4 linked regions of the Homo sapiens genome follow. The protein of the gene in region 1 interacts with the protein of each later gene in a biochemical or structural test. Each region holds a gene or a part of one and is shown on either strand. Other genes may lie near its edges.

Region 1 (7,023 bases):
ATTACTAAGCACCAAATTAGCACAAAAATTAAGCTCTTGTGGACAGTAATATATCGAAGGTATGTGTTCCATGTAGTCACTGCTGGTATGCTCTCCATATCATCAAAAAAGCACTCCTGAATAAAAGAATTATGGCTATTACAATAAGACAGTACAGTTTCATGCCACCATTGTGGTTTTATTTTTAATATATGAAAATAAAAGAATAGTATTACTTGAATCTAAGTGTATTTTAACAAATATAAATCATTATAAATGCCATGTATGATGTCATTCTATAGCCAGAATAATGTCTACTGGAGCAACACAGCTTTATTAAAAATGAGAAACATCGTAATTTTTCAAAATTCTAAAAATGTATCACTGATTATATAACTGTATTATTATTGGACAATTTTACCATTAAAGGCTTAACAGTGGCATACCTTTTATCAAATGAATGATACCATCTAAATGAAGTTTCCCAGAACTCTCTTTGATTTAACCTGTTTCTTCAGGGGTCCATGGACAAGTACAGTTCAGTATACTTCTAGCTATAAAGGTCTTCCAATAGACTGAAAGCTCATTTGTGTTTGAACATTTCTTAGTAACTTAGGACTTTCTCTCTTTCCAGCTGTGATTTAAATTACATAATTCTCATCCTAGGCATATTCCTCTAGAAATCTTTGTCTTTTGGCATAGAAATACATTTCAAAAATTTGAAAAAGAGAGATTCCAGACAGTCCAAAGGAAAAAGAGTTTTGTTTCTCACAAAATCAACAAAACTCATGGGAAAGTGCTATGAATCACAAAGAAGGGCTCCTATGGAATTGGGATATAGTGCACTGGTTAGGAGTATGCATTTTTTGAGTCAGACAGATCTGGATTTGAACCCAACCTCCACCATTAACATCCTAGGAGCTGCTTGAATTCAAGCATGTTGCCGAACTCTGAACTTTAGTTTCCTTATCTGCAAATGTGAAAAATTTTAAATACCTTCCAGGGTAGTTGTGGGGACTAAATATATGCCACCTAGCACTAGATGCAATCCATTAATAGAAACTATTATTAGTCAAGGATATCATTCTTTACAACTAAATTTTTAGGCTCAGGACTGAGAAATTCATTTAGATTGATATTAAACTATATAGATGGGCTGGGCGCAGTGGCTCAGGCTGGACGTGGTGGCACACGCCTGTAATACCAGCACTTTGGGAGGCTGAGGTGGGTGGATCACAAGGTCAGGAGTTCAAGACCAGCCTGGTCAACATGATGAAACCCCTTCTCTACTAAAAATACAAAAATTAGCTCGGCATGGTGGTGCATGCCTGTAATCTCAGCTACTCAGGAGGCTGAGGCAGGAGATTAGCTTGAACCCAGGAGGCAGAGGTTGCAGTGAGCCGAGGTTGCACCATTGCACTCCAGCCTAGGTGACAGAGCGAGACTCCATCTCAAACAAACAAACAAACAAACACACAAAAAAACACTATATAGATGAATTATCATTTAGGAAACCTTCATAAAGTTTAGAAATACTAAAATTACACACTTTAGGGATCTATTTTATTCCCTCATTTTACAAAGAAGGAAACTTCTGCCTACAGATGTTAATGGCTTGTGTCTTGTCAAAGGTCATATTATTCACAAATGATCTATACTATTAAACATATCAATTCATTACAACCCTGCCCATGGCTCATTTCATCCAAGGCATTAAGTTTTCTACTAAAACAACAAAAACTCTCCTTTTTATATTATTTCCTGTTTTAAAAATAAAATGCTTTTATTCTTAAAACCTAATAGAACAAAATTTCTGTCTGAAGATTGGCACTAGTACATGTTAAGCTTATATACATTCTCTAAAAGAAATCTTTTCAGAAACCCAATGTATAAAGCAAACTCACAAGATAAAAAAAAGCCCACACTAGCTAAATTCAGGCAAGACTGATATACAAACCAGAATGTGAGTTAGTCCTATCAAGAGGCTAAATGTTTATATACCTTATATATGCTACTTCCATACAGATTATTTTGCGAGCTATAAATAATGAAAGCTACTATTTATTTATACAGTTATTTATACTGCACCTCTTCCCACAGAGGGTTCAAGATGGTAATAAAGCAAATGCTTTCTAACTTATAGTCACAGTTATCACTGGCTTAGTAGAGGACCAAAAACTAAATCCTTTCCCATTTTATGGGAAGAGATATGTCCATTGCAAAAAGAAATCATTTGTTATTTTACATTTTAACGTTGCTTGTATAATTAATGAACTTCATACTTTCTGAGTTTTAAGATACACCTTATCCTAATCCTATGATTTTAGTAAATTTTGTTACATGCTACATATTGCATTCTACTCAATTGCATTCTGTGGGGTGAAATACCCCCAAGCGATGTATACCTACCTTTAAGTCTTCTTCGTTAATTTCTTCACTTATTTCCAAGCCAGTTTCTTGAGATAACCTTCTTGAATATATATCCAGTTCAGTCAAGTTTGCCTGAGGGGCCAGTGACACTTTTCGTGTGGATGCTGTTGTCTTTCGGTGAATGTTCTGACCTTGGTTAACTGAGTGTGTCATCAGGTTCAGGACAGACTGCCTCCTTCGTGCCTGAAGCGTGGGGCCAGTGCTGATCACGCTGATGCGAGGCAGTATCGCCTCTCCCTGCTCAGAATCTGGTACTAAGGACAGCCTTCTCTCTAAAGGCTCATCAGAATCCTCTTCGATGCCATTCATTTGTAAGGGAGTCTTTTGCACAATGGAAAATTTTCGTATAGAGTTGATTGGATTGAGAATAGAATTCTTCCTTTTTTCCCCAAACTCTCCAGTCTGTTTAAAAGATTGTTTTTTTGTTTCTGTCCAGGAGACAGGAGCATCTCCTTCTAATGAGAAACGGTGTAAGGTCTCAGTTAGGATTGAATTTCTTCTTTCTGCACTAAATTGGTCGAAAGAATCACATCCCATGAGTTTTGAGCTAAAGTCTGGCTGTAGATTTTGGAGTTCTGAAAATGTCCCATAAAAATAGCTGCTACCTTCATGCAAAATTAATATTTTGTCAGCTTTCTTTAAATGTTCCATTTTAGAAGTGACCAAAATCCTAGTTTTGTTAGCCATCAGTTTACAGACACAGCTTTAAGATATAAAAACATATAAATATCAATTTTATAAATACTTTATTGCAATATGTCTCGTATTTTAGCATTTTGTTAATGTTTTATTGCATATAATCTCTATCATACAATTTTATTATATTTTAAATGATTCTATAAGTACTCTGTAGTAATTAAATTGGTACCTTGTGAATTCTGATAGCATGAAATAACATGCTATATTGAAAAGTTGCATGTTAACAGACTGAGAATGAAATTAAATTTCCTATATTAAGTAGATATTTGACTTTGAGCAAATCATTTATCCTCGGGGTCTCTCAGTTTATTTATCTAGAAAATGAGGAAATTATTAGATGATCTTTAAGGTCCCTAGAGATTTGTACTTCATTTCTTTTAAATGTCAGAGCTTTGTTGCTCTTTAAATTTTCTATTAATTTCTTTTTTACATTTTAGGTTGACCATCAATTTATTTCTCAAGTGTTTACATTAAGACTAATCTGTTTCACTAAAAATAAAACAGCAATAATAACAACTGAGAATTCGATAATTAATTTGACTCTCCTCAAATAGAATTTTAATCTATTCTAGAAGTAAATCCTGACTAGAATCATCTAAGACATATCAGTTTTTTTAGGCATTAAAATGTCATATATCATATAGAAAGACACATTGTTCTAGATTATACTGTAACACACTAACACAATACAAATGTAGTAAAGTTTATATTGATAGAAGTTACTTTTCACAATCTCAGGGTTGAAAAGATAGTATCTTGGATATTAAATTTAACTAAATTCTAAGAAAGGTACTTCTAGGAATAACCCAGCCATTTTATATACATATACATCTTTATTGCTTAAAGTCTTTATTTTTAGAAGAGTATAATAACTGTTCTCCTAATAAACTACTTGATAGTCCATTAAATCATTTTGAAACTTTGAAATCAAGCCATATAACTGACTGTCTGTCTGTCTAGGGAATTTCATGTACATTGGACCCTAACAGGAGTTCCAAGGAAATATAAGTCCTGAGCTCTGTGTGACTGAGGAGGAGATCTCCAAGGAAGTATTGAGGTAGATGAGTAGTCTAAGCATATTAAACCAGTAAAACACTTAGCATATATATTTTCTTAAGAAGGTTACTATCTAAGGAGAAGACAGAATAAAATACTAACACAAAAAGTAAATAAAAATGTTAAGTATAATAATAATTAAAGTAATATATATCACAAGGCAATGATACTGCAAAAACTACATAGATAGCAATTGCTATAACAGTATAGCAATGAGAGAAACTGGTTTAGCATGAGGCGGTGAGAAAAGGTTTTAATGGAAGTAATCTTGAATCCTGGCCCAGTAGGGCAGATCAGATTTGAGTTAATACCATGCTACATTCTGCCATACCAACAATGGTGAACATATTTCTCAAGAGGTAAAATGCAATCTATGATGGGACAGTCTGTCTTTCTTTTATTTTAGCATGAGCATTATAAGTAAGGTATTCAAAGAACATACCTTTCAAATATTTCTTTTTCTGTTAAAACATCTAGGTATCCAAAAGGAGAGTCTAATAAATACAAATCAGCATCTTTGTATACTGCTCTAAAAAGAAAATGGAAATTAAATTACATTTCCTCTCTATTTCCTGGTCATCTAGTGTAGATGATTTGCCTTAAACAGTTCACTACATGCATTACAATATGGTCACCACATCGATTCACTGAAATAACACTATTCTCAAAAGTGGTGCAGAAGTAGCACTTTTATACATGTTTTTACTATGGTAGATTATTTTAAATGAGGAATAAAGGAATAAGTTGCAGAAGATTTTTATCACTTTTCACAACATTCCAAGAACTGCTGAAGTGATTTTGCTAACTGTAAGTGGCATAAACTAGCAAAAGTCACAAACTGAACTGTACCATAGCATACACTTTAAAATATTACCTTAAAAAATATTTTAACAATAGTATCTATTTAGAGGCAAGTACCATGCTATGTGCTCAAAATACAATGGCAAAAATTATACAGTTCCTGCCCTTGAAGATGTTGGGTTTTGGTGAGGACACCAAAAAGAAAATAAACTATTCCAAACTGTAAAATGTCAGAGACAGCTAATAAATTACATTACTTATGTGAAATTATTTTTAAAATGTTTTTCTAAGTGTTAACCACTATCAACAAATTGATAGCAGTGCTGCCACAACTGTATAATTGATATTGCATTTTGTTCCTTGTAGTTTCAGTCTCTATATCATATTCATAAAAGTTCCAAATAAGGAAAGTATGAGTAAGTCACAACAAAATGTATATCCATATTATTTTACTATTTAGCTAAAATATGAAACCATAAGCAAGTAAAATCTACATTGAGTTGACCTTAGAACAGTAATAAAGATGAAGACACAGTTCCCATATTAATAGAAATGAGATAATTTCTTCATAACATTTAAATTTTTCAGGTGTGATTGATAGTAACCTTACTTATATCTCAAGTACATAGGATTCTCTGTTTATACATGTAATTGTTGGTACTTCTGTAATAAAGAAAATTGTATTCAGCACACAATTAAGAAATTTTTAAAGCCAATTTAAAAATTTTTTTAAAAACCAATGGCAAAACTTTAAAAGTCTAAAACAACCTTTATAGTGTAACTTATTTTTGAAGACAGTATGCAAGAGCTACATAATGGATCCCATCAAAATGTACACAGTTTCTTCCCCACACTCTGTTCTTAATTCTCTCCCTCACATCTATGACAAGTTTCTTATGAGATTAGAAATAAGAAATTCATCATCCAAAACTGGACAACACATTACACATTCTGATCAGAATAAGAACAGACAATTATTTTTAGTTCCTCAAAGTGTGTGCACCTTACAGCAAAACCAAATCTTAAACTGATAACACAAACTCAGTTCTATGTTGGATGTCTAGAAGCCATATACTCTATCTTATCTAAATTTGTGGAATTCTTAGAATAAGTCTTACTTTGGCTCACAGATAAAAACAATCAACTTCCATTTATTTAGAAGCCTGTGAATTATCCGTATCTATTGATTTATTGCCTTACAGTGTATTTCCAAGATCAAAGCATGGTTTAATGTAAAGAATCAAAAGGACCTGGTTCAAACTGTGACTCTACCATTTTCCTGTATGGCTTTTGGCAAGTTAACATCTAACAGCCTCAATTATCTTATGATCTCTTCTGTAAAGCAGGGAGAACAATTCTTACTTTGCAGAGCTGTAAGGGGATTACATACACACAAAAGTACACACATGACTAGAATACTACCAGGCAATTGCAGGTGCTCAGTTAGGGTTAGTTTCCTGTCTCAGCTTTTGGAAAGCAACAGAAAGTAAGGGAAAGGAGCCAAAACATCAATGAGTCAATGTGATTTCTTGTTAACGACTTTGGCAACAAAGTGAGAAGAATTTTGTTCAGATAAAGCTTGAGAAACATTTGACATCAGAGTCACCAATAATTGTTTAAACTGAAAGTTACAGTTTAACCACAAAGCTCTCTCCTTGACATACATTATCTATATTTACATCTCTTTGACAGCTTTAAAATGCTTGGACCAAGAGTGTTTCTACTAAGGGACCTCCTCCCCCAACAATGTTAATGCATTTGTCCTGTTTATTTTAAATATTATAGATTTTAAGCCAAGTGACATCATTTGCCTTCCTATTTTGTTATGAAAATTATGATGAAAAATTTTGAAAATGTATGTTTATCTATACCAAGAAGCCTAAAGCTGGTGTGTACATTGGAGTGGCAGGGTCTATGATGGAACTAACAGATATTTACATCTTCTCTGTCCAGTATTATGCAGAATCCTAGAGTTTTCCATTTGTAGTAAACTATACTATGAGGCAAACAAATACACTGACACCAAGATACGGGCACAGATTCTGAGTAACCATAATC
Region 2 (7,023 bases), on another chromosome or scaffold:
GAAATCAATTTAGACTTCTATTTCTAGGAGATGTCACAACTTAGACTTTTTCTTTTTTCTTTTTTTTTTAAGATGAAGCTATTTTAAGCCTGCATCCAAATGCAAGCAACTGAGCTGGAACTGCTTGCAGGATGCCGTCTGTTAACAGCCATGGCTGAAGACTGAAACCTGCAGGATGGGCACCAGGAGCCTGGGTCGTGCTCCTTTACAGGGCCAGGAGCTGTCCCTCTGCAACACCCCCACCCCACCCCAACCATTGTGGGAAGGTGTCTGAGGCCTAACTGTGTGGATGAACTCTGCAGAGGCCTTTAGAAATCAGGCCATCCCTCTTCTTTTAACCCTCTGTTGTTTGTCCCCAAGCTGTTTGGCCTGCAATCTGAGGAGACAACTGCCTTTTCATGTTTTATACATTTTATTCATACATTTCTCCAACTTTGAAATGACAAAAGCCCAATTCTATGGTTTCCCATTACACAGCATCCTACAGGTATGTATATTCTACAAGGAATACTATGGAGTTTCTCTTCTTCCCCTGTCACACAAGATAACTGATTAGGGTTTCATCAACTTGTACTGTGCCGGCAGCGCACCAGCATTCTGGTTGTTCCGGCGACAGGGCAAAGGGATCAGGATGGGAGGGCGTGTGCTAAGGCATGTAAATAGATACACACAGAGAGAAAGAAAAGCAGGACATTTACAAAGAATCCAAACCTTTCCAATCCCTTCAGCTCCTGGGTGTTGAGGGACACCTCCTGCACAAACGCTCTTGCAAGCTAAGGCTCTGCTGTACCCTGCAAATACTTACAATTGGATACGGTGAAATATACAACAACCATTAACATCTCTCTCTTTTTATCACTGAGACAATACTTCAACACCTTTTATAAAAAGGCAATAATACATACAGAAAAAAGAACACGTTGGCAAAACTTTATGCAAAACCACCCCAGAACTGAGTTTGAATGGCGACGTGCCTACACTGCAATTAAACACGATACTCGGGTCTTAGCACGTGAGGATTGGGCGGCCTTCACATCAGTCACGCTGCCTGCTGCACCCGGCAGCCGCCTACCTGCCTGCACAGATGACATTCCGGGAAACAGCTAAGACTGGAAATCAATTCCCCCAATTCTTGGTCTCTTCCAAATAAAAAAAAAATAGGGGGAGCCACTCACTGTGGAGGAATGCCTGTTTCTGTTCCCAAGGACAATTCTCGCTACAGAGGTTGTACTTCCTCTGGGTCCAGAGAGGGTCACCCCTAAGCCTCTGTCAGTAAGAACACTGGCGTGTTCTCTCAGTCACACACCAGAGAGAATGGAGCTAACACATAAGTAGCAGCTAAATTCTGAGTTTCTGAGCATACGCAGAGATGGAGTTGTGCTTGGGGCCAGAAAGGAGGTCTCCTGTGTGGTGACAAACATCTCTTTCCATTTTCTTTTGCTCAGTCCATTTGCACAGGTTCGAGGGAGTTGATGGAGGGTCAGACGAGAGGTGGTGGGAGCTCAGGATTTTCTATTCCCACAAAGAGCTAAGACTTAGGAGTGCTGGCCCCAGAGATGGTGCGGCCCTCTTTCTACTTCTGTTTCTGTGGGCTCTGTCTGCCCACCTGCTGCACAAAGCAAGGCAGGGGAAAGACCGGATGGGAACATGGTGGTGAATATCCTCTTTTTTTCCCTTTTCCCCCACTTCCTGGATGTAGGTGACAGCTAAACTTCACCCACTAAGCTGGAAAATCTGGGACTCCCCATAGCTCCAAGTTTAAGGCAAACTGATGTGTGTGTGCACAGGCAAAGCCAATCAAGCCATGAGCTTGGAGGAGAGTCCTGTATCCAGAGATTCCAAACAGAGAGGGAAATCTTATTTCTAAAGGAGTTAGAAAAGGAAAGGCTCTGGCAAATGAAATGATCTGTGATTAAAGCTTGTAGCCTTTCTGTAAGCTGCAGTGAGAAGGAAAGCATCTTTTAATAGAAGAATTAATTAGAGGCGCAGAACAAGAAAGCCACGCTCAGGGACCTTTAACTTATTACAGCCTGTAATCGCTCTCAGTATTGTAAGCCCTAGTCAAGAGGATGGAATTAGGAGGCTGTGTTCAGTTCTGAGAAAACAAGAAACACACACGAGTTTGATAATAGGAAGCAAGAAGGAGGAGGGATGAGGATGACAAGGAGCTTGGTTTTGGAATGCCGATTCCAAGGTGCCTTCTCTTTTCAAAGAGACAGTGTGGGAGGCATTTCTATTAAGAATTTGTTAATCAAGCAGTTTTCTTGGTAGCTTTAGCAACACATTCTCTTTGCCCCAAGTTAAGAAACTGGCCTGAAATGAAAAAAAAAAAGGACATGACATCAGTGGGGGACAAAAGAGAGCTGGCTTTGGGCTGCCTTGTTTTTCAGGGGCAGTTTCCACGCTGGGAATCTTCCTGGAGGGTGGTTCAATTGACTAAACTTTTTCAAGAAATAAACTTGAAGCCTTAATGAAGAGACAAATACAAGTGATTTAAAAACAAAAGAACTCTGCAGCGATCAGATCAAAGGCTGTAAAAAGGTAACAGTAGCTGCAGCCCAGGCCTGCCTGGAGCACAGGGGAAGGCTTGGCCCACTGGCTGTCTCTAGCAGCCTAAGAAGGAATTGGACGGGGAACAGGAACACCTCCTGCATTTCTACTGCAGTGGGGGACTTTGCGACATCTTTAGATATTCTGCCACCAATAGGATGGGCTGGGACGATGCCTTCTGAATGCAAATAGCAAGAAGTAGGTCAACCATTTGTTTTCCTCTCTGAGCAAAGATTTTAAATCATCTCACCTGACAAGAGATACATTTAATTGCATTTAAAAAGGCTACAATGTTATCTTGACACTGGGAAACTTCCAGATGAATTAAATTGAGTGACATTTCCCTTTTTAGCATTAAAATGGGATATGCTGTATGTGCAAAGTAATTACTGTCTTGTGACTGGAAAATCAGGACATTTCATCTTTTTAACAAAGAATTCAACATATAAAAACACTCCCTTTCTTGCTGTGGGGAATGGAGTTGGGTGGGGGAGAGAACCTTCAAAATGTGGCTCTCCAATACTTCAATTGACCACTAATAAGATTTAGTACTCTAAACATTCATTCTGGTCTTTAAAAGAAAGAAAGAAAAAAAAAGGTTCTGCTGATGGAATGGAAGCAGTAAAGAAGCTTTTAGCAATTTTCTCTGATTGCTTAGTGGACAATTGTAATGTAGCAGTAGCAGCAGCAGCAGCAGCAGCAGCAGCAGCAGCAGCAGCAGCAGCAGCAGCAATGTACTGAAATTACTCTGAATTCAGAAATGTAAGTATATGCAGCTAGGTCATAAAGACACTGCTTTAGAGAAGACATGTATTAGTGGAATGGAACAGGTAACATCTTTGAGAAGTCAATGAGTTCTGCATGCAGGGATTTCACCATCGGAATGATGGCAAGAATGATGCCTGCCTGTGTGCTTCTCAGAGGACGTATAAAGCCACTGAGGATGAGTGCTACAGTGCTTGTGAATTGTGGGGCCACAGACATTTAAGTTGGCATTGCTTTTCTCCTCCTCTGCTTAATCCACCTTTATAAATATGGCAGATGGCTTAAGACAGGCATCATCAGCATCTCTGGAGATGTGGGCTCAAAGGGCAAGTGGGGGCGTGGGGGTTTCCACTAGAGGGAGGGAAGTTTCTGTTTCCCATGTGTTAGTTGTAGTTGTCTTTGTGCTTCACCAGAAAAGAGGTAGAGTGCGCACCTTCACACTAAGAGCCCGAAATTGTGGTCAGTACCATACCAGGAACGACTGTCTGGCCTTGGCATCTATCAGATTCGAATCAGTTCTAACACAGCCCTACCCAACTCTTTGAAGGTTTCTCTCTCTATCTAGTGTGAGACCACTGTTGAGCTTATCTCTGGTTTGGTGGCTTGGTCACCCCACTGTGGGGCCCATACAGAAGTAGTTCACTCAATACCTTGTTAGTAAGTTGCAGACTCATCTGGTCACTGGCAAAGAACAACATCAGAAAAAAAAAAATCGCCACCATTTAATAATAGGCGGTGGGGGGCGGAGGCGGGTATGGTGTTGACAATGTAAAAGAAGTATACTAATGCCTTCTCTGTTTGGTCCTTTAAGAGGAGCTGTTCAGCTCAGAACACACCCTGCACATCCTGCCAAGGCACAAAGTGACAAGGCCATCTAACCTACAAGAAGCAAAAAATGATGGTATGTTTTCAAGGATCACAGGTTAATATAAGCACTTCACACCCTCACATGCTAATGAAAAACATTCTACTGACCTCTGGCAAAGAGTCTGAGAACCCCAGCCCGAATCTCCTGTATTGGAAGAATGTGACTTCATGGAAGAGTTATGAGATGGTTAATGTCTCTAAAGCAACAAGGACAGATGATTCCCCTGTGCCAAGGGATACAGCAAGAGGAAGGAGAGACCACAGGTGGCCTCCAGTACACCCGTGGCCCTTGGGCGCATGGCTCTGTGCGAGTCAGACGTGGTCCAGCTGTGCTCTGGCAGGCTACTTTGTCACCCTGCCAACTGATACTCACTCCTGGGCCTTCAAAGGTTCAATGAGCATCTAACAAATTATACAATTGTAAAGATTATCAGCTTGGAAGCCTGAACAAATCTATAATGAAATGAAGGACCCAAAGGCATTTAATTATTGAACACATAAAAGGAAGTATATTTAAAAAAAATTGGTCAAACTGTCCTGTTAGTTATCATTTTAAAGGAATTTACAGGGCTGTTATAGATGATTCTTTTGGAATATTTCAGTTTATAGCAAATGCCTAAACTGGTTTCTTCATTGCACAGTATTTTCTCTTAAAATGGGTGCTTTAAAACAATTACATACAGATTAAAAATCATTTCTTTGCTTAATTAAAACGTTAATACTCTTAGACAACACAGATCTGAAATGGTGAAACCAGCAATTCCCCCCACCCCACCTTACAACAAATTAAATTGAGACAAAATTACAAACACATTTCACTACATGATTATTATTAATAAAAATCAGTTTCTTTTTTTTTATAAAGTTGCCCAAAATGCAAGGGATGTGCATAGGTTTACAACTTAGTCATAATAGCATTTTATTCTTATTCCCCTGGGTGTGCCCCATGAACGGAATGTAGAATGTACTTTGCTGTAGATTACAGATTGTTTTGTCCAACACAGACACACCGACAGCATAAACGCTCGCGACTGTCCACATGCATTAAGAGTCAAGACCCAACTTCAAATCTCTAAAAGGTTTACAGGGTGCTTCAAAGAGACAGTATCACATTATCTGGATGTTACATAAAGGACTTAAAAAAAAATACTATTCTAAAAAAAAAAAAAGAGAGAAAAAAGGCCTTTAAAAATTTATGACTGTTTTGTAATCACTACACTAATTATTTCAAATAAATAAAGGAAAGAAAGATATCCCAATATTCCAATCCATAAAATCAGACTCTAAAAAGAATGTAGTGTTCCACCCCCAGTCAAGGTAACAGAATCATTGTTTATTATTATTAAAATAGATTATAGAAAGCAGCATCTATTTTGTGCAGTTTTTAGGGGCCTTGGAAATAAAAAGCTATGATTTCCAAAAATATAACATTCCAAAGGATTGAATAATACATACATTTAAAGATACATTTTATTAAAGTTTAGGAGAACTGATTAAAAAAGATACTGTCTCTTTAAATTAGTGTGTAATTGTTTTTCTCCTCCTATCTATTCGGACATGACAATAATTATAAATGTAGGTCACACTACAACTAGGTAGTCTCTAGGGACCATGACCTGCTGACACAAGGCCGATAACAAAGAGGCTTTTCCACAAATGAGGTGCTCCCAGTTATGCTCAGATATCTGGGGAGAGGCCTAATAGACCCAGGAGACAGGGACCCACTGTGGGGCTGTGCACACGAGCTCAACAGCTTCCTCCAGATGTCTGATTGTCTCATCAATTTCATTGTTGATAATTGTGAGATCGAAGTAGTGTGCATATGTTCTCTGTAAGATGTCAGACTCCTTCTGCAGACGCTGAAGAGATTCATCCTAAATGGTGATGAGATGGAGGTAGGGGTGGGCATGAGAGGAGGGAAAAGCAAACAGAAGAGAGAAATCAGTTGGATTCGTTCTCTTTTCACATTTTTGTTCATCCCAGTGTCAGAAACAGTCAAGGCCAGACCCTGATATGCCATATGCCAGCATGAGGCCAAGTCCGCTCCATGACAGAGGAGACAGTGATTGCTCAACATGCAACAGAGGGTCCATGACAAAGCAGACGAACCAGAGAAAACAGATACTCTTCAGGAAACATGCCACCCCCACTCAGGCCTAGCTGTGCCTGTCCCCAGAGTCAGGCTTGGTAGGGCCATGCCAGGTGTGGGTTACAGTGGCTATGGTGGCCCAAACAGGCCAGCAGGAAGCCCCCCGCCCTAGCCTCAAGCCACTCTCCCAATTGGCGAGAGGGCTACGGTGGCAAGGCTGGAGCTCTTTGCCCCCGTCCCCTTGGTCCTCCACACTCACTGGAGCCAGGCCTCAGGGCCCAGCTGTGTTTGCACCAACAAGTCCCTGCCCTTGGATGACAAATTAAGTTGTATTTTTTCCTCTTCTACTTAAAGGTGCCACACGTTCTAGGAATTCAATTACATATAATGGCCCTCACTCAATAGCAGCTGATGCCAGAGGCAAAAGATCTTTGAGTGTTACAAATAATGGCTGGAATAAGGCTGTTTCCCCAATAAACAGCACCTGGCATCTGATGAATCCCCCCAAATTGGTCTGCATTAGAAGTGGCTAGACAAATGTCACTGTTCGTAGGTCCTCATATCTCTTATGAAAAAAACAGAAGGAAGAGAACTCTAGGGAGTACTGAACTCTAGGGAGGTTTGCTGCAACAAAGGATGTTCCCTAAGCTGCAGCTTGCCACAGATTTTAAGAACTCTTGTAAGAGGGATCCAACAGGAGGAGGGAGTTTAGGGTCCCAGCTTTGTCATGCAAGTATAGCTTCTGCTACAGA
Region 3 (7,023 bases), on another chromosome or scaffold:
CTGCCTTTTGGGGCTCCTTTTCTGCCCCAGGGACCATCTTGTTGGCCACTGGGGGCCACTGTTTCTACCCTCAGCCTGTGTTTTAAACTGGGTAGGGTCAGGGCAGCCTGGCCTGTTCCTCTTCTCCAGGATGCTCCAGAGCCACTTGCCCTATCGAGGGGTCACTCTGACAAGCTGCCGCCTCCCCAGCCCCCAGCCTCGTGGCTGAGGAACCCTGGGAAGAGGCATTCCAGGTCTGCGTGTGCGCAGCTCTGTGCCTGTGCTGGGTGTCATCCGTGGCTCTGTCTTTGTCTCTGTTGAAGGCGCCTGCATGCTGGGAAGGCCTGGGAGAGGGCCGGCCTTCTCCACAGGCAGCGCCGTGGTTGGGGAAGCCTAGGAGGCCACTCTGCCAGGCCTGGCGTAGGTGGGGCTGGGAGCATGGGAGTGGAGTTGGGGGTCCAGGAGGCTCCAGGGTGAGCCCACTCCTCCCCCTAGATACAAGGGAGGGCCCTGGGACCCTGTCTGCTGTTCCTCCTGGACTCCTGCTGGGTAGTACTTCCTCCTTCCCCTGCCCTTGCTCCCAGCCAGGAGACCCAGAAAAGTACAGGGGCGGCCTGCTCCACCTCCTGCTAGGTGGCCGACTGGGAGGGGCGGCCTGGCAGGCCTTGGGGACCAGGAGGAACAGCCTGAAGCTGTCTGTCTTATCTTCCTGGAGGCCCTGATGGCATTATCTCCATGTTCTCTCCTACCTTTTTTTTTTTTTTTTTTTCATTTTCAAAGAGAACCCTGGCCGGGTGCGGTGGCTCACGCCTGTAATCCCAACACTTCGGGAGGCTGAGATGGGTGGATCACCTGAGGTCAGGAATTTTGAGACCAGCTTGACTAATGTGGTGAAACCCCCGTCTCTACTAAAAATACAAAAATCAGTTGGGCATGGTGGGGCACGCCTATAGTCCCAGCTACTTGGGAGGCTGAGGCAGGAGAGTCGCTTGAACCCGGCAGGCGGAGGTTTCAGTGAGCCGAGATCCCGCCATAGCACTCCAGCCTAGGCGACAGAGTGAGACTGTCTCAAAAAAAAACAAAAAAAGGAAAAGAAAGAAATCCCTTCAGGGGATATGAGTCCAGGGGTTGGCCAGACCCCACTGTGAGAACCGCGCTTGGGGCAGGGGTGTGGGATCTGGAGTTCTGAGGGTGCAGGGGATATACACATTCACTTTCTCCCTTTCCCAGACGTCACTGCTGAAGCTGGCTGCCCCTAGGAGCTGAGCCCGGGGGGAGCGGCTTGGCAGGGAGACAGCATTCCCTGTGGGGAGCCCAGCCTGGGCGCAGGCCTGCCCGTGGGACCTGTGGGACCCGTTTTGTTCCTGGGGCTTGAGGGCGGGCCACAGTGGTGCTCAGGGCCAAGGTGCCCAGCCCAGGGCTGGTGGGGGGGCTGGCCTTGCAGGGGGGCTGGCTGGTCCTAAGCCCCTGTCTCCAGGCTGAGGGTTGGGGCCTCCCTCTTTCCCAGCCACCTTCCCTCCCCCAGGAGGAAGCTCCCCCTCTGCCTCAGGCGTTTGTCCATTGATTTGGACACAAACGCATGGTTCACCTTCCTGTGGAAAAATCCGGCCCTCGGACTTTATCTGGAGGGTGCAGTGGCCCAGGCACCTTGCCTTGGGTGGGACCTTCCCCCTCTGCTATTTCAGGCTCTGGGGGCTGCAGGAAGCCCTAGGAGGGGCTTCCTCTGGGTGTATTTTTAGAGGAACAAAGGGTGGCCTGAGTGGCAGGTCCCTTTGTGCATGAGTCTGGCTGGGGACAGGGGCTCCAGGAGGTCAGGGGGCACCCAAGGAACAGGGTCTCCCCTTCTCTCTTCTGGCATCAAGACCTGAGGTTTCTTTTTCTTTTTCTTTCTTGGCTCACTACAACCTCCGCTGTCTGGGTTCAAGCGATTCTCTTGCCTCACCCTCCCCAGTAGCTGGGATTACAGGCGCGCACCACCACACCTGACTAATTTTTGTGTTTTTAGTAGAGACGGGGTTTCACCATGTTGCTCAAGCTGGTCTCGAACTCCTGATCTCAGGTGATCTGCCCTCCTCGACCTCCCAAAGTTCTGGGATTACAGGTGTGAGCCACTGTACCCGGCCCCTGAGGTCTGAGGTTTCATTTCTTTCTTTCTTTTTTTTTTTTTTTGAGACGGAGTTTCACTCTGTCGCCCAGGCTGGAGTGCTGTGGTGCGATCTCGGCTCACTGCAAGCTCCGCCTCCTGGGTTCAAGCAATTCTTATGTCTCAGCCTGCTGAGTAGCTGGGATTACAGGCGTGTACCACCACACCTGGCTAATTTTTGTGTTTTTGGTAGAGACAGGGTTTCACCGTGTTGGCCAGGCTGGTCTCAAACTCTTGGGCTCAAGTGATCCGCCTGCCTCAGCCTCCCAAAGTGCTGGGATTACAGGTGTGAGCCCCTGCGCCTGGCTCAGGACCTGAGGTTTCTTCACCTGAGCTCCCAGCATGGGCAGGAAGAGGTGGGCCTCACCTGACCTCCACAGAGCAGGCTCAGATCCTGCCCTTCTCAGCCTGGGTTCAGGGCATGCCTCAGATGGTCAGGGAGCCCAGGAGGGCAAAGCTTACCTTGCGGGGATGGCTCCAGTGGGGGCACTGGTGGCAGAGAGGCAGAGCTCTGGAAGGGATGTGTGTAGTTTGTCTTTGGTGAAGGATGGAGAGGGCCCAACTTTGGGTGCCCCCTGGGAGCTAAGGGTGGCTCTCAGTGTCCTCTGTCCTGGCTGGGGATAGGGGAGGTGGGCAGGGGAGGACACTGATGTGGTTGGCCCCTCCTTTTGGGGGCCGTGAAGGCCTAGTTAGTGATGACTCAGCCCTGGGCCACACCAGGCTGGGGGTGGCCGCAGCTGCAGTGCAGCTGATCCTAGTAGTGACGACAGGGGACAGCCCCCAAACAGAGACGGGGTGGCCAGCGGTGCCAGGCCCTGGAGGTGGTGGCAGACCCTGAGCCCTCTGCCCCCTGCCCCTAGCCCATGTCTCCACCCCCATCTGGAGGGCCTTGGGGGCTAAGAGCAGGTGTGAGGGGTGACAGTTCTGCGGGAGGCGGCTGTGTGGTTGGGGCGCGGTGCCTGCGGGGGCTTCCGGGCTTCCCTGGCTCTTGCTCCTCTGGAGCCTCAACAGGACCGTCCTGTGTTCTGGGGCCGGGACTCCTCCCTGTCCCCTCAGCCCTGGGTCCTGGGGCAGGGCAGGGCCTTCCAGCAGCTTCCTTCCTTCCTTTCTTGGGACGGAAGCCTAGCTGGGTGGGGGGCGCCAGGCTGGAGCCTTCGCAGGGGAGCGGGCTCAGTCATCACCCTGCTCCCCAGAGTGACTCAGCCCCCACGTCCCCACCCATCCCCGGGGAGCCAGGGCCGCAGAGGGAGGTAGATAAGTGGGGTGGCAGCCTGGGTCGGCCAGAGAGTTCAGGCCACCCCGGCCGGACGCCTGCCACTTGCTGTCACTGTGCCGCTGTCATGGCACGCTCCGGGAGTGCCACGCCACCTGCCCGGGCTCCGGGAGCCCCTCCACGGAGCCCACCCCAGAGGCTGGTACAGGTCAGGTGGGGTGGGAGGAAGGGAGGGCTAGGAGGAACCGGCAGCCGCTCAGCCTCCCGGGGTGGAAGGAGGGGACTCCGGGACCTTGATGTAAGCAGGCTGGTCGCTGAGCAACAATGAAGGCCTTTCTCTGCCAGGGCTGGTGCGTCACCATCTGGGGGGGTGCCCAGGGTACCCCCATGCCAGCCTCTTTGTCCGGACACAGGCATGGCTGGGGGACCAGGGATGGTCCAGCTCTGTGCTGGCCGCCGGCAGGGAGGGAGCCTGGAGCCCGTGGGAGCCCGAGGGCCTGGCGGGAGGCGGCAGGAAGTGTGTGCTGAGCCAGGGCAGGGAGGAGGAATGTGAGCTATGAACGCCGCCCGAGCTCCTCGGCTCTCTGGGCCCCCCTTCCCCACGAGCCCATGTGCTGCCAGCAGCCCACCCTGGCCCCTCCATTGCAGCCCCTCCACCTGAGGTTTTAGTGCTGTGCCTGGCGCCACTGGGACCCTGCTGACAATGAAGGGGTTTAGGTTTGATAGGCAGAACTTCTTGCCTTGTAGAGTGAAAGACGGCTGCTTCTGGACAGAGGCAGAGGGGTGGCCAGAATGACCCTGAGAACACTGAGGGGTCCTTGGCCTGGCCTCAGGGCCCCAGACACCCACCAGATCCTGCTTCCTGTCTGGTGCCCTGAGAAACCCTGCCCCGCAGGCCGCTGTGCAGGCGTGGGAAGGGCTGCCGGGCCAGCACTGTGGGGCTGGCCGCATGTGTGGGCTGCTGTGCGTGTTTGCAGGTGTGTGTGGACGTCTTGTGTCTGTGGCTGTGTGATGTGTCTTTGCGGACTGGGCCCATATCACGCTCCCACCTCCTCCACTGAATTGGGCTCCTGTCCCCACGCCTTCCCTGCGTCCCAGGCCAGCCTGGGGGCCGTGCTCCACCTCCCCTCCCGAACTGGACTCCTGTCCCCACGCCTTCCCTCCGTCCCAGGCCAGCCTGGGGGCCGTGCTCCACCTCCCCTCCCGAACTGGACTCCTGTCCCCACGCCTTCCCTCCGTCCCAGGCCAGCCTGGGGGCCGTGCTCCACCTCCCCTCCCGAACTGGACTCCTGTCCCCACGCCTTCCCTCCGTCCCAGGCCAGCCTGGGGGCCGTGCTCCACCTCCCCTCCCGAACTGGGCTCCTGTCCCCACGCCTTCCCTCCGTCCCAGGCCAGCCTGGGGGCCGTGCTCCACCTCCCCTCCCGAACTGGACTCCTGTCCCCACGCCTTCCCTCCGTCCCAGGCCAGCCTGGGGGCCGTGCTCCACCTCCCCTCCCGAACTGGGCTCCTGTCCCCACGCCTTCCCTCCGTCCCAGGCCAGCCTGGGGGCTGTGCTCCACTTCCCCTCCCGAACTGGACTCCTGTCCCCACGCCTTCCCTGCGTCCCAGGCCAGCCTGGGGGCCGTGCTGTGACTGCATCCCTGAGGGGCACTTTGGTGGGCAGGTGTCAGGGTCAGCCTTGAAGCCCCACGCCTGTGCCACCAGGTGTGTCTGGGGGAGGAGTGAGTCTATGTGGTGGGGCCCTGGAGATTTTGGGGGTCTTGCACCCTCTAATTCAGCCCATGTGGCCCAGCTGAGCCCCTGTGGGGCCAGGGAGCCACAGGCTTGTCCCTGGAGTTTCTGGTGTGACGGGCTGGGTGGTGGCCATGCAGAGAGGGTTCAGAGGGTGGGCAGGAGGCTTCAGATGAGGCATCTGGCAGGCTGGACAGGAGAAGGGTGTTCCAGACCAAGGGCAGGTCCTGAGCCCAGGGGACAGAGCACTAGCTGTGTGGAGAAGGACCCCCTTGCTCCCTTGGCGGGGCGGTCCCCCCCGCTGACATGGCCGTTTCTGGTCCATTGGGGTTTGGAGCGAGCTTGAAGGTGGGTGGCTGGAGGGGTTGGGGGTGTCTGAGGCCTGGAGACCTGCCCTCCTGAGGTCTGAGCGCCCCCTTGCCATGCCGCCCCAGCCCTGGCCTGGCCTGGCCTGTGGTCCCTCAGGGACACACAGGGAGGTAGGAGGTGAGGGAAGGGCCCTGGCAGCCCCCAGCCCGCCTGCACAGTCTCCCCTGCGCACGCCCTCAAGCTTGGCGCTCCCTGGAAACCTGAGCTGCCTCCTGCCTGCTCCGGCCACCGCCATGTTTAACTGAGCACGGGCAGCCGCTGGCCACCGCCGCCGCACCCTGGCCCACCCCCTGGCTGGGAGGTGGTCATTGGGCCTGGCCTTGCCTGCATGGTCCCCTGGCCCAGAGCCCTACCGCAGGATGCCAGAGGTAACATGGGGCAGGGCCTGGGATGGTAGCGGGGGGTCCTTCCGGGCACCAGGAGGCCCTCTGTGCCCTGTCCACACTAAGCTCCTGCCCCAGCCCCTGCTTGCTGGGCCCACGGGGGTGGGGCGGCTCATTTTCCTGGAATGTGAAAGCAAACAGAGCCGCCACCGCAGCCAGCCCCACGGAGGCCTCTGGAGAGAAAACAAAACTGCTGGCCTAGGAGCGCCTGCCCCACGCTCTGGAGGAGAGCCCGGGGCAGGGGGACGCACAGGCAGAGCCCTCAGGGACAACCGCCCCAGGAGGCCAACGGCGACAGTTCATCCCACCTGGTGCTTCCTCCCACCCTGCCTGTGCGCCACGCTGGCCTCGAGCCAAAGGAATTCTCCCAGCAACCCGGGAAGGCGGCTGGGCCCGTCGGGGAGGCTTCTGGGTTTGAAAACAGGCTTTGCCCAAGTTCCCACAGCTAAAGCTCTGTCACAGGCAGCCTGGGTGCCCGGAGTGTTTGCCACTGAGACCTGGGCCTGCCCGTGGGGGGCACGGTACCGAGTTTGGGCAGTGGCGGCACCACCGGGGAGTGGCCTCTGGAGGCGGGAGGCTGGAGCAAGAGACTGACCCTGTCCGTTGGGCCTGCAGGATGTCAGTGGGCCCCTGAGGGAGCTGCGCCCTCGGCTCTGCCACCTGCGAAAGGGACCTCAGGGCTATGGGTTCAACCTGCATAGTGACAAGTCCCGGCCCGGCCAGTACATCCGCTCTGTGGACCCGGGCTCACCTGCCGCCCGCTCTGGCCTCCGCGCCCAGGACCGGCTCATTGAGGTACCGGCCCACCAGGGCTGCGGGGTGCCGAGTGCCCCGCACCTGTCCACACTGGGGCCCTGGGTCCTTGCAGGGAGGAGGGAGACGCTGGGAACCTGAGCTGGTGCGCCTCCTGCTGCCTCGGTGGGCGGTGGCTGTGATGAATATTTGATGCCACACCTGGCCACGCGGCGTTGGGGGCTGTCTGGGCCCATGGCGGGGCTGATACATGCTGGTGGCGGCAGGTGAACGGGCAGAATGTGGAGGGACTGCGCCATGCTGAGGTGGTGGCCAGCATCAAGGCACGGGAGGACGAGGCCCGGCTGCTGGTCGTGGACCCCGAGACAGATGAACACTTCAAGCGGCTTCGGGTCACACCCACCGAGGAGCACGTGGAAGGTGGGCCACGGCCCAGGGCACAGGGTGGGTG
Region 4 (7,363 bases), on another chromosome or scaffold:
AATGCCAGTCTCGCACGCCCTCTCCCACAGGCCTGGCTCACTGAGATTCATGAGTATGCCCAGAGGGACGTGGTGATCATGCTGCTAGGCAACAAGGTGAGTGGCTCCGGGGCAGGGTCAGCCCAGCCCTGCACTTCCTCAGCCCTAGCCGGCCCCATAACCACCCAAGAACAGTTATCTAGGCATCCTTCCTGAAAAGGACTCTGCAGCCTCCAGCTCAGGGGTCAGACATATCTGGAGGCTTCTGCCCATCCCATCTGCCCCTTCCAGGGAAAGTCCAAGTTGTTGCCTGAGAAATCAAGGGGTGCCCAGTTCTCAGCCCCCATTAGAGCAGAGTGAACAGGGTCCCAGGTCAGGGGCTAAGAGTGCAAAGGGTTAGCCCCAACTGCTGTCCTATTCCAAGACCCTTTACCAAAGGTGAGATCCCAGAGCTGGGAGCTACACTGGGCAGAAACCCTGGCCCCAGGCCAATCACACCTGCCTGCAGTCCCTTGGGCCACCAGCAGAGGGCAGGCAACGCCTGCTTCTGGGGCAAAATATGGGCCCGCTGGGGCGGAGGCCTCCTTCCCCAGAGTGACCCATTTGGGCTTGACAGGCGGATATGAGCAGCGAAAGAGTGATCCGTTCCGAAGACGGAGAGACCTTGGCCAGGGTAAGTGATTGTCTGTGGGACAGGGTGAAGGGTGGGGGCAACCCGACGCTGGCCCTGAGGACACTCTCTCCCGGGCAGGAGTACGGTGTTCCCTTCCTGGAGACCAGCGCCAAGACTGGCATGAATGTGGAGTTAGCCTTTCTGGCCATCGCCAAGTGAGAGCTGGGCAGGGAAGGGAAGTGTGCGGGGCAGGGCGGCACACTCCAGGAATCCAGTAGGGCCCGGCCCCTGGCCCAGCCCCTGGACACACCTGCATTCTGCAGGCTGAGGTCCATTTGCTCTGGGAGCACTGGGCCACTGGGAGAGGGGAGGGGGCGGCTCAGCTCCTCACCCCAGCCCAGCCCAGCCCAGCCCAGCCCATTGTCTCTTCTTCAAGGGAACTGAAATACCGGGCCGGGCATCAGGCGGATGAGCCCAGCTTCCAGATCCGAGACTATGTAGAGTCCCAGAAGAAGCGCTCCAGCTGCTGCTCCTTCATGTGAATCCCAGGGGGCAGAGAGGAGGCTCTGGAGGCACACAGGATGCAGCCTTCCCCCTCCCAGGCCTGGCTTATTCCAAGAGGCTGAGCCAATGGGGAGAAAGATGGAGGACTCACTGCACAGCCGCTTCCTAGCAGGGAGCTATACTCCAACTCCTACTTGAGTTCCTGCGGTCTCCCCGCATCCACAGGGAGGGTAAAACACTTAGCTTTTATTTTAATAGTACATAATTTAATACCAAAAAAGGCGCCTGGATCCCCAAAAAACCGAGGCTGGGAGCTAGTGGCCCTTTTGCTTTCTAGGACTTGGGGGGCCGGCCCTCCCTCCTAAGCATAACAAAGGTGGTGTTGCTCCAGCTCAGCCCCAGGGGACACAGATGCACTTTGGGGGTGAGGGCAGGTAATGACTCCATCGCACCCTCAGTTCAGCTGGACAGAGGCTCAGGTGACCCCAGCCTTCACTGTCTCCCGCTCTCCAGGAGCTTATCTTCGCCCCATCTCCCAAATAAGTGGGCCCTTGTGCTGTGAGGAAGACCAAAGCCTCAGGGAAGATAAGAGATATGGAGATGGGAGGGGGAGGACAAGGGGCAGAGAGTAGGGTCTAGCTGGCTATCTCTGGCCTTACTAACACCCCCCTGGAGGCATGCCCCTTTTCTCCAGCACACAAGCACATTGGGGCACCTGGAAATATTGGTTCCAGGCTCCTGTTCTCTGGACTTCAGATCCTGGGGGAGCCCCTCCCCCCCCTGAATCCCTGGCTTAGCTACCTTCCTGCCTGTGCACCTAAAAACCTCAGGTCAGAACTAGGAAAAGAGTTTTGTTTTTATTTTTTTGAAATGGAGTCTCGTTCTGTCGCCCAGGCTGAGGTGCAGTAGTGCAATCTCCGCTCACTACAACCTCCACTCCCTGGGGCTCAAGCGATCCTCCCACCTCAGCCGCCGAAGTAGCTGGGACTATAGGTGTGTACCATCACACCTGGCTAATTTTTGTATTTTTTGTAGACACAGGGTTTCGCCATGTTGCCCAGGCTGGTCTTGAATTCCTGAGCTCAAGCAACCTGCCGGCCTCGGCCTCCCAAAGTACTGGGATTACACGCAGAAGGCACCATGCCCAGGCTAGATGTGTCTTATCCCAATCCTTTGGCAGGCATGCAGCTCCACAGGCGATTTCTTCAAGCAGCTGAAGTGTTTAGCCCTCCTGGGTTAAGAGCCAGATAAGGAGAAATCCCTTTCCTAGGTTTGGAATGTGTTGTGAAAAAAAAGAGAAATCCCTGGCTCCTGGAGCTGGTGGGAGACAAGATTAAGCAAACCTCCCCTGACATGTATCCCTTTGACCCCAAGCTCTGCCTCCTCCCTGACCACCCATGCCCTTTCCTTTAACTTCTCAAACAGATACCAGGGCCTAAACTGCTTTACCTCCCCTCCTACTGAGTCAGGTTAGGTGGTGGGAGGTCACCCATTTCCGAGTTAAACCAATGCAATATGAGTAAAACAAAGTCATGTGGGTATGTCTGGGGTAGAGAGAGGGGTAGCAAGTTCATGTGTCCTCCTTGGTCACATATCTCCCAAAGCTCCGATCCCTGCCATGGGAAGTGGACAGGAAACATGAGGTCATGACCTGCAGGCATCTTTACTGCAGCTCTGCCGGCCTGGAGGGGGAGAGGGGGAGGAAGAAGTATGCGCTGCACATTTCTGAGGCTACTGCATTTGCTTTCAAGGCAGAAATCTTGCTCTGAGCAGTCAGCGGCTCCAGTTTGGGCCCGATAAGGAAGTTCTCCGTGGCCTCCCTCAGGCAGAGCAGGGAGGAGGCTGACATTGCCAGTCTCTTCTGGGGCCCAAGGCAGGTTGCAGGAGATCCAATCCCATAGACAGCTCTGGGCCTCTTGCATTTGAGTTTTTCAGAATTAAACTGCAGTATTTTGGAAAGCACATCCTGTCCACTGTTTCTTTGAAGTGAGTGGGGGGGGGGGGTCTTGTTGAAGGAATTGTCATTCACTGCCAAAATCATTCCATCCTCCTTCCTCAGTGTCTGTCCTCAGATGGTCAGCTCCCCGCTCAACAGACTGTCTCCCGCCTCTGTGACCAGCCTCTCTTTGGCAAGAGGGAGCTAGAAGGCTTTACAGTCCTAATCATTTTTCTGTTGGAAAAAAAAAAAAAAAACCAAGGCTCCTTTCCCTGTGGCGTGTACCCAGAGGTTGATTACCTGAGTCTGTCCTGCCTCTCCCCACCCCACCTCCCTAGCCAAACGCTGCTGCCAAAGCCCACGCTATTGCCCTAGATGGCCTGTCTTCAGCGGGCTGCCCCTCGAGGTCCCAGGCTCTCCGCGGAGCCCTCACCTTCCCAGCAGGGATCAGAACCTGCACTCCTCTATGCGAGTCCTGGGACAGCACAAAGTGGATTAGGGTTAGGGTTCCCACAAACGGAAAAATGTTATTCAAACAACTCTGTAGGGTCCGAGGAGGCCCTCCGTCTTAATTCTCGAGACTGACCGGCCCTCGCTGCCCCGAGCGGGAGCAGTTGCCCCGGCAACAGCCGCTCCCTCTCAACTGGAGCTGCACCCAGGCTTTGGCTAAAGGCTGTTAAAACGTTGGCCAGGTGCGGTGGCTCACGTCTGTAATCCCAGGGCGGATCACCTGAGGTCAGGAGTTTGAAACCATCCTGGCCAACATGGCGAAATTTCGTCTCTACTAAAAATACAAAAATTAGCGGGGCGTGGTGGTGCGCGCCTGTAACCCCAGCTGCTCGGGAGGCTGAGGCAGGGGAATCGCTTGAACCCGGGAGGCGGAGGTTGCAGTGATCCGAGATCGCGCCACGGCAGTCCAGCCTGGGCGACAGAGCGAGACTCCGTCTCAAAAAAAAAAAAAAAAGTTAGGGTCCTTTACCCGAGGGCCGGCTTTCCTCACTCCCCGCCACAGGTAGGGGAAACCAGGCCGGAGCCGGCGGGCCCACCCGCCCAGAACCGGGAATTCGGCGAGCCCCGCCCCTGCCACCCCAGCGCCGGCCGCTCGGTAACAAACACTTCCACTTCCTGAGCGCTAGTCTTCGCCCGCCGCGGGGCGCCGCGCCGAGCGCAGGCCCCGCCCCGCGCGTTCCCAATGGCCGGCGCCGTTCACCCGGCCGGAGCGCCCAGGCCTGCAGCCCCCTATTGGCCCGCGGAGGTCCCCACCCTCAGCGCGGCCCCGCCCCCGGGGTAAGGAGCCGGGGCGGACTCTGGGACGCTCAGACGCCGCGCGGGGCGGGGATTGGTCTGTGGTCCTCTCTCGGCTCCTCGCGGCTCGCGGCGGCCGACGGTTCCTGGGACACCTGCTTGCTTGGCCCGTCCGGCGGCTCAGGGCTTCTCTGCTGCGCTCCCGGTTCGCTGGACGGGAAGAAGGGCTGGGCCGTCCCGTCCCGTCCCCATCGGAACCCCAAGTCGCGCCGCTGACCCGTCGCAGGGCGAGATGAGCGCGGACGCAGCGGCCGGGGCGCCCCTGCCCCGGCTCTGCTGCCTGGAGAAGGGTCCGAACGGCTACGGCTTCCACCTGCACGGGGAGAAGGGCAAGTTGGGCCAGTACATCCGGCTGGTGGAGCCCGGCTCGCCGGCCGAGAAGGCGGGGCTGCTGGCGGGGGACCGGCTGGTGGAGGTGAACGGCGAAAACGTGGAGAAGGAGACCCACCAGCAGGTGGTGAGCCGCATCCGCGCCGCACTCAACGCCGTGCGCCTGCTGGTGGTCGACCCCGAGACGGACGAGCAGCTGCAGAAGCTCGGCGTCCAGGTCCGAGAGGAGCTGCTGCGCGCCCAGGAAGCGCCGGGGCAGGCCGAGCCGCCGGCCGCCGCCGAGGTGCAGGGGGCTGGCAACGAAAATGAGCCTCGCGAGGCCGACAAGAGCCACCCGGAGCAGGTAAGCGGGGCCCAAGCCGCGCAGGCTGGCATGGAGTGGGAGGAGGATCCGGAGAGACCCAGGTGCCCCGGCCGTCCAGCCCCGCGCCCGCCGTCGTTTTTCTGAAACTCGAGCTGCGAGGGGGAGACCGCTTCCGCCCGCCGACCAGGCGCCCTGACACATCCTAGGCAGGCCTGGGGCTGCGTCCCGCGACCTCCTCTCCTTCCCAGGCTGTGCTGGGAGCTTGAGCGCCTTTGCCGCCTGCACCTCTTGTTCCCTGGCCTTTGGGAGGGCGGCGCAGGGGAACCCAGCCCCCTTCCCTCGGGTCTGTGGGTGTCTGCTCCCGTTCCTCGGAATCCCCCAATCCTGCTCCTTCCCTGGTGCCCTCTCCTCGTTCACCCCAGTCCGCAGATGGGCCGGGGAGAAAGGGCTCTCCGCCCCAGAGGTGCCAGCTTCGCCCGCCACTCCTACTTCAAAAGCTAGAGGAATAGCATTACTCCTCCTGTGTGGAGCCCCGGCGCGAGGAGGCCCTCTCCGCAGCCCGCCGGTGTGTGTCCTGAACTTCAGTCCTGCTGGACTTCATCCTCCCGGAGTCCTGTGTGACTTCTAAGGGAGAGGAAGCCCCACCATCTCAGGGCGGTGTGGGGGTTGCCTGGCAGGGAGGAGGAGCCAAGGCATCTCGGAGTGGTGGTTCTGCCACCTCAGAGGATTTACGATTCTCAGGAATGTGAAGAGTAAGCGCCTAGAACTGTATCTGGGAGGGAAGGGGAAAGACCTTGGAAGAAGAAAAAGATGGCCATGGGGAGGAGAGAGAGCTCCTGGGGCTCACGGCCCTGTGTGCGCCAGCGGAGCTCACGGTGAGCCGGTGGTCTTGCCCTGGCCTTGCCATGGTCACTCTGGTGCCCACACAGCCAGCAGGCCGGTTGCTTTTTGCCCATGTTTGGTGTTTGCCCATGGGATCCCAGTTTGGATCAGCTGCAAGAGGGGCAGCTGGCAAAATAGGAGTTGTGCTGAGCCTCCTGTCCCCAGAGAGTGGAGTGGTGCATTGTGTAGGGCAGGGCGTGAGCCTCCCAGGACCCCTTCAGCTTGCACCACCAGCTCTCCCTGGTGGCAGTGTCTGATGGGAGTGTCCGTGGGGCTACGAGGAGCCTCCTGGACAGAGAAAGGGCACAGTTCGGCATTAAGGTAGAAGGCAAAGCCCTAGAGGATCAACTGGTTTGGTGGAAGTGAGGTCACCAGAAGCCCTGTCCAGCCAGAGCTGGGTGCTGGGAATGCCAGGGCCACCAGGCTCCCACTTCCTGCCCCTGCCAAGCTGGCATTGGCAAGGGGAGGGGGAAGGGATCTGAGCACCCGGAGCAAGGAGGTTGATGCCAGGGAGTTGGGGCCGATGATCTCCAGTCCCAGGCAGAAATCCAGTGTGAACTTTGTGCTGAGTCCATCGATCGATTTGACATTCTTTTTTTTTTTTTTTTTTGGACTTTGGCACCCACACAAATACCCACCCACCCCCACCCCCCACAAGTTGCAGTCTCGTTCAGCTCCTCCCTTTGCCCTTTTGGTTATGCTGCTGGGTGCCAGAGGGCCTGGGAGGCGAACGTGGAGGCCTGGCATAGCACACGTGCGCAAAGGCAGCAGCTTTGAGCTTCCTGGGTGAGCACAGACTCAGATTCCTGCATGTTTTGGAGGGACACCTACATTTGTGTGTACTTTGTTAGGCCAGGAGATGAGAGGAGAGCCACCAGCAAATCCTGGGGACACCATCACCAGCCAAGTCCCAGGACTTCTGAGTTCTGGTTCTCCCATCTGTGAGATGGAGGCATTGGGCGATGTGATGCCTGCCTTCTCTAGAATTATAGAAATGACGTGAAGCACTTGAGCCCCTTACTAAATGCTGAACTGCACTCCTTCATGCCTGGCGTTTGAATCCCAGCTCCTCTAAACTGACTCCTAGTCAACACCATTGAGTCCTTCTAGCAGAAAATCCTCTCCTCTCAATCCTGTGTGTTGAGCATACAGACACCCATGTGGTTATTAGAAAAAATGTTAACAGACATTGTAAGAGTTCGTTTTTCTAAAACACACCCGTTTCCTACATAAAGCATCAAATGGAGGTTTGCCAATTCGTTTTAGTCTGAATTTGTGTGCAAGGTGGGGCTGTTCCCTTGTCTTCATTAGCCCTCCACTTACTAAGTGATGATATCAGTGGAAAAGTGTGGCGCAGAGAGTGGTTGGCTGGGTGGCCTCTGGCTGGGAAGACCAGCTGTGTCCAGAACCACTCAGGGCAGAGGCTGAGGGGTGCCTGTAACACTGGCCATCCCCGCTGGGGAGTCTAGGCCTAAGGAGGTGGAAGTGGCTCTCCAGCTCTGCCCACCGG

What was found.
Region 2: the proteins of CFTR (region 1) and CASK interact in a test that uses a peptide from one of them, tested with the Homo sapiens proteins (2 studies listed by IntAct, with this or other methods).
Region 3: the proteins of CFTR (region 1) and NHERF2 form a complex in vitro, tested with the Homo sapiens proteins (4 studies listed by BioGRID and IntAct, with this or other methods).
Region 4: the proteins of CFTR (region 1) and NHERF1 form a complex in vitro, tested with the Homo sapiens proteins (9 studies listed by BioGRID and IntAct, with this or other methods).

Annotation. Positions count from the first base shown.
Region 1 is NC_000007.14:117,588,023-117,595,045, reverse strand, and holds part of CFTR (cystic fibrosis transmembrane conductance regulator), read right to left. Parts: intron 4,694-7,023; coding exon 4,607-4,693; intron 3,113-4,606; coding exon 2,389-3,112; intron 117-2,388; coding exon 1-116. UniProt on the Homo sapiens protein: Epithelial ion channel that plays an important role in the regulation of epithelial ion and water transport and fluid homeostasis. Mediates the transport of chloride ions across the cell membrane.
Region 2 is NC_000023.11:41,514,541-41,521,563, forward strand, and holds the end of CASK (peripheral plasma membrane protein CASK), read right to left. Parts: intron 6,057-7,023; coding exon 5,880-6,056; 3' UTR 394-5,879; downstream 1-393. UniProt on the Homo sapiens protein: Multidomain scaffolding Mg(2+)-independent protein kinase that catalyzes the phosphotransfer from ATP to proteins such as NRXN1, and plays a role in synaptic transmembrane protein anchoring and ion channel trafficking.
Region 3 is NC_000016.10:2,029,890-2,036,912, forward strand, and holds part of NHERF2 (Na(+)/H(+) exchange regulatory cofactor NHE-RF2), read left to right. Parts: intron 1-3,404; exon of another isoform or gene 3,405-3,462; coding exon of another isoform or gene 3,463-3,543; intron 3,544-3,699; exon of another isoform or gene 3,700-5,795; coding exon of another isoform or gene 5,796-5,804; intron 5,805-6,434; coding exon 6,435-6,614; intron 6,615-6,838; coding exon 6,839-6,992; intron 6,993-7,023.
Region 4 is NC_000017.11:74,744,278-74,751,640, forward strand, and holds the start of NHERF1 (Na(+)/H(+) exchange regulatory cofactor NHE-RF1), read left to right. Parts: upstream 1-4,350; 5' UTR 4,351-4,569; coding exon 4,570-5,010; exon of another isoform or gene 5,011-5,590; intron 5,591-7,363. Other genes in the region: RAB37 (ras-related protein Rab-37), read left to right, coding at 31-96, 596-652, 731-807, 1,029-1,134. UniProt on the Homo sapiens protein: Scaffold protein that connects plasma membrane proteins with members of the ezrin/moesin/radixin family and thereby helps to link them to the actin cytoskeleton and to regulate their surface expression. Necessary for recycling of internalized ADRB2.